2 separate regions of the Homo sapiens genome follow, and region 2 is linked to region 1. Evidence: fine-mapped expression QTL. Tissue or cell type: whole blood. Region 1 holds a variant in brackets; the other region holds the start of a gene. All regions are shown on one strand. Distances are from middle to middle.

Region 1 (2,688 bases):
CTTTCTATACACCTGCTTTATTTGCTGACAGACTGCCCAGGACAGACAGGACATGCCCAGACAATGAATGTTTCTGCTGTGAAAGTCCTTGGCTTTGAGCTTGCTCCTCCACACTAATCCAGTAATGCATATCCTTATGTGGCTCATTTTCTGGCCTACTTAAAGGGAATTAGAGGTATTTGTTTCCACGACCAGACCACAGCATGAGGAAAATTGTGAGCCTTCTGGCACAGTAAATCCTTGAAGACTCTGCCAACTCTTCTCAATCCTTCACTTCCTTCTCCTCCCATTCTGGAAGATTTCAGGCCCACTGGGGAACAAGGGGCTGCTGAGAGTAAAGGCAAGTTGGGCCATTTCTAGTTCATCTGCCTCCTGCTCTGCCTTATGCCTACCTCCCAATGCCCAGTCATCTCTAGTTTTCTGGGACAGACATGAGTTTATTTCATTTCATTAGCATCTTTAAACATATACACACCTATATAACTTCATATAAATGGTAAAGTGTGATTGCATTATACATATTGTAATTTCACTTGACACAATCTTTTTTTTTTTTTTTGAGACGGAGTTTCGCTCTTTGTTGCCCAGGCTGGAGTGCAGTGGCGTAATCTCAGCTCACTGCAAACTCCGCCTCCCAGGTTCAAGCAATTCTCCTGCCTCAGCCTCCCAAGTAGCTGGGATTACAGGCACCCACCACCACACCTACCTAATTTTTGTATTTTTAGTAGTGACGGTGTTTCACCATGTTGACCAAGCTGGTCTTGAACTCCTGACCTCAGGTGATCCGTTCACCTCGGACTCCCAAAGTGCTGTGATTACAGGCGTGAACCACTGCGCCCAGCCTACTTGACTCAATCTTATAAAAATTTATTTCCTCTTTCAGGGATCCCACCTCTGTAACCTCCCTGTCACATCAGTCCCCTCCATAAGCACCTTCCAGGCTACCCGTGTTAACAACCTTTGTGATTATATACCAATATAGATGCATATAAGATTTGCCTTATCATTTACAGTCACTTTATAGTCACCCTATGCACACTTCATGCATCTTGCTTTTCTCACATGACAGCATTTTATAGGAATCACTCCAAGTAAATTGGTACAGTTTTAATTAATCCTTTTTCTTTTTTCTTTTTCTTTTTTTTTTTTTTTTTTTTTTTTGAGATGGAGTCTCACACTGTCGCCCAGACTGGAGTGCAGTGGCTCGATCTCAGCTCACTGCAACCTCTGCCTTCCAGGTTCAAGCGATTCTCCTGCCTCAGCCTCCCAAGTAGTTGGGATTACAGGCACCTGCCACCAC[G/A]CCTGGCTAATTTTTTGTATTTTTAGTAGAGATGGGGTTTCACTATGTTGGCCAGGCTAGTCTCAAACGCCTGACCTCGTGATCCACCCAGCTCAGCCTCCCAAAGTGCTGGGATTACAGGTATGAGCCACTCTGCCCGGCCAGTTCTAATTAATTCTTTTTAATGGCCACAGAGCCTCTCTGGTGATGTGTATTTCATCATGATTTTTTTAACCACTTTCCCACTGATGGGTATCTACATTGTGTCCAGGTGTAACTGTTTGCCACAATAACAACCCTGTGATAAACACCCTTGAACACATTTTCGTTATTACTGGTGGTTTTCTAGCTGTGAGATAATTTCTTAGCAATAAATTTCTGGGTAGAAGAGTATCTTTTTTATTTTAACAATTTTAATAGATATTGCCAAATTGCTTTTCTAAAAGGCTTTTCTAAAAGTATTCACACTTTTCCTCATATCCCTTCTGTTATGGAATGAATTGTGTCCTTCTAAAATTCATATGTTGAAGCCCTATCCTCTAAAGTGACTATATTTGGAGATAGGGCCTTTAAAGAGGTAATTAAGGGTAAATGAGGTCATAAGGGTGAGACCCTGAACCAACAGGACTGTAGCCTTACAAGAAGAGGAGGAGACACCAGGGATGCATGCACAGAGAAAAAGGCCCTGTGAAGACATGATGAGAAAGTGGCCATCTGCAAGCCAAGGAGAGAGGCCTCAGGAGAAACCAGCCCTGCCGGCACCTTGATCTTGGACTTTCAGCTTCTAGAACTGTGAGAAAATAACTTCCTGTTGTTTGAACCACCCAATCCGATTTGTTTTTTTGTGTGTGTGTGGGGGGGTTTTGTTTGTTTTTTTGAGATGGAGTTTTGCTCTTGTTGCCCAGGCTAAAGTGCAATGGTGCGATCCCGGCTCACCTTAACCTCCGCCTCCTGGGTTCAAGTGATTCTCCCGCCTCAGCCACCCGAGTAGCTGAGATTACAGGCATGCGCCACCACGCCCGACTAATTTTGTATTTTTAGTAGAGACAAGGTTTCTCCATGTTGGTCGGGCTCATCTTGAACTTCTGACCTCAGGTGATCCGCCCACCTCGGCCCCCCAAAGTGCTGGGATTACAGGTGTGAGCCACCATGCCCAGCCAATCTGTGGTATTTTCTTGTGGCAGACCAAGAGGATAGGAACAATTAAAACGGGGTGCATGGAGGGGCTTCCCAGACTCCTCCATGGGGCGCAGTCCAAGTGCCTGGGAGTGCTGAGCAACACTGGTGGTGGCTGTGAGGGACCTCAGCTCAGAGTGAGCTACAAATGCAAGGATGCAGTCCTCATCTTTGAGCACTCTAAATACGGAGGGAGCTACAGTTGTTCAATGGAAACAAGGTCTATACACCCC
Region 2 (2,688 bases), 85 kb before region 1:
TGCCCCAGGGAATTATTAGGTTCAGCAAAGTTTAGGAAACAGTGATTAGATCCTCCTGCCTTAGGAGCCCAATATAGGGAGGCTTTATAAAAATCCTTGTGCCAAGAGAAACGTTGTAAACTCTAACTCCGCGCTCTCACACTGAAGTCAAAACAAGGTTGTTGTTTTTCTCTCCTATTCACTAAATCCACAACAGCAGGAAAACCCATCTAACTTTGCCAACTGCCTTCCCCTCCCCTCCCTTCCCCCACCAATCTGTGGTGGATTGGGCCCCTTGGCCTCACTTCTACCTTCCCTCAAGGTGGGGAAATCAGAGCGAAAGAGTCCTGGGAGAAATTTTTACAGTCTGCTTTCCTTGGGGCCCACCCCTGGTTGGAAACTGACTTAAGCTTTCATGCTGTGTAATGTGGAAAGATCCAGCAATTAATGGTCATTGCCAGAGGACACCCCTTTGAAAGAAAGAGGCTGCCACTGTATTCCCCTAAAAACTGTGGGACAGGGCTCACGACTACACTCCCCACCATTCTCTGCAGCAGGGGCTCCTGAGACAGAGCTGAACCTTCTCCAAAACGATGTGGGGTGAAGAGCAGGGAGTTGCAACTCCTACCTCCCCTAGGAGTGCTGGCCAGGTTGCCGTGGGAACTGATAAAGCCCCAGTGCAGGGAGAAGCCTCTCAGAGGTGAGAATCACCTGGGGCATTTGGATGAAATGCCAGTCCAGGCCCCTGTGCAGATCCACTAAATCAGAATCTGTAGGGATGGGGCCTGAAAACTGGGTACTTTTAATTCTCGCCCAGTGATTCTGATGTGCAGACAGGGTTGAGAACCAGCGGTTAGCCTAATCAATTCTAAGAGAAAACCTCCATCTCTCCTCCGTCACAGGAACCTGTCACCTCTTAAAACCACAATGAGGTGGAGAGCCAACTAGGGCACACTGAGCGTGGTCACGGGGCGACGAAACCACCACGCACCGTTCCCCAGAAGCACACACTGGCTGGAAAGTTCCAGCTGGAGCCAAAGGTCGCAGTCCAGGTGCTGCATCTTTTTAAAGGAAACACACCCAAAGGCACTAGGACAGAGCCTTAGCTAGCGATTTAGATCCAGCCCTATCTGACGCCGCCAGCAGCACCACGAAGACACTTCCACGAGCACACCCAGCGGGGCGCCGAGGTGCCGCCCAAGAGGCTCCTTGGCGCCGGGGCCGCCTGACGTCAGTGGGACGGCCCTGGGCTTGGGCGCGCCACAGCCCCGCCCCTCGGGCGCCAGTCTCGGTCGCGGGCATTGAGCGGCTGGAGTCTGGCGACTGCCCCACGCCCAGCCGTGGGTCGCTAGACGGCGGGCGCACCCGTCGTTCTGGACACGCTTAGTCGGCCCAGCGAGAGGGCGAAGGAGCCGCGGGCGCGTCCCCGCCAACCCTGCTCGCCCGCGCCGAGGCGGGCCACGTGACAGCCCGGGGCCCCGCGCCCCGCCGCGCCGCCTTACTTGGTGTACTCGCGCAGCCCCTTGGCGAACCACACGACGCTGCGGTACAGGGACATGCCGGGAGCGCCCCACGCCTAGCCCCACCGCGCTCCCGGCGCGGCCTCCGCCCTGGTCCCGCCCCCCGGGAGTCGCCCGCCCTGACATCATCCCGGTTATGTAAGAGCCGCGGCTTCCGGTTCCTTGCTCCACCGGTAAGGCAAGGGGTCTCGGGGCCGGCCGGTCGACTCCGCCCCAGCCTCAGAGGGTGGAGTGAGGGCGGACCGGCCCTGGTGGGGGCCGCAGTCGAGGTCCGCAGTCTCCTCGGGGTCGAAATCGGGCATCAGCGCCGTTTAGAGAACACCGTCCTGCTGGGCATGGCCGGGATGCGAAGATGGCCCTGCAACGCACCTCCTAGAATTTGGTTACCTAGAAAACCATGTGGAATAAAACGACGAGGCTTATGATATTTAAAAGACTTCTGCATCGAATTGGTGTTATCATAAGGGTTATTTTAATAACTGGCATTCTCTAAGTTTCTACACGTGTTGGGGGATGCAGTGCCGTGCCACATTTCCCGTCTCCAGCAAGCGCAGTCAGATTGGCGACATCGCAGGCAAGAGGCAGGGCTGGGGCTCCCACCCGAGAAGTAATTGTCTCCAAAGTTGGACTTTTGCCACTGGTTCTGCGACTTCATGCAATGCCAGGGAGAGCCCCTTGATTTCCCCCAAATCCTCATCAGCCTCTTTCCACCCAAGCCCAGATGAACAGTGTGAGTAAAAAAGAGTGTGGTTGCTGCGTGAACCCAGATCTCAGACTAGTCATCCAGCCCCATTATGTAGGACTCAGACACCCCTGTCCACATCTAACCTCCAGCCCTAACGCCACATTAGAAATGGGGGTCTTACTGCTGCTGTCACTCCTAGTCACCCTGTTAAATTCTATACCGGTTTACCCAAGTCGCCCAGAGACTGGGCCCCACTTACATAAGCTGAAGAGACCAGCTGCTTTAATAGCCTCATTACCTAGGATATAGGATCACTGTCCAACCTCACTCCACAGTGGGCAAGTTTTTACTTCAGAATAACTTTTGAAATAAATTTCCCCGGAACAGCTCGCCCCTCTCAACAGGACTCTGAGGCTCCACTACGTTGCTGTTATTCCTGACAGAGTGATGAAAGGAAATTTAAACAAGTGGCATTTTGTAAAACCACCCCAGCCTGTGTGACTT

Evidence for each region. PIP is the estimated chance that this variant, and not a neighbour inherited with it, causes the effect.
Region 2: DHRS12 starts here. The variant in region 1 is fine-mapped to the expression of DHRS12 in whole blood (Lepik 2017, PIP 0.95).

Annotation. Positions count from the first base shown.
Region 1 is chr13:51,887,503-51,890,190 of GRCh38, forward strand. It overlaps a transcript of TMEM272 not described here. Among named protein-coding and RNA genes, the nearest start is that of CCDC70, 27 kb to the left of the region's middle. The variant G/A (reference allele first, on the strand shown) is at 1,301.
Region 2 is chr13:51,802,573-51,805,260 of GRCh38, forward strand. It overlaps DHRS12 (dehydrogenase/reductase 12), which reads right to left and starts at 1,591. Exons shown (of 9, transcript NM_001377533.1): 1 at 1,482-1,591. It overlaps LOC107984561 (a long non-coding RNA gene), which reads left to right and starts at 1,264. Exons shown (of 2, transcript XR_007063805.1): 1 at 1,264-2,229. RefSeq lists a silencer at 1,152-1,791 and an enhancer at 2,342-2,471.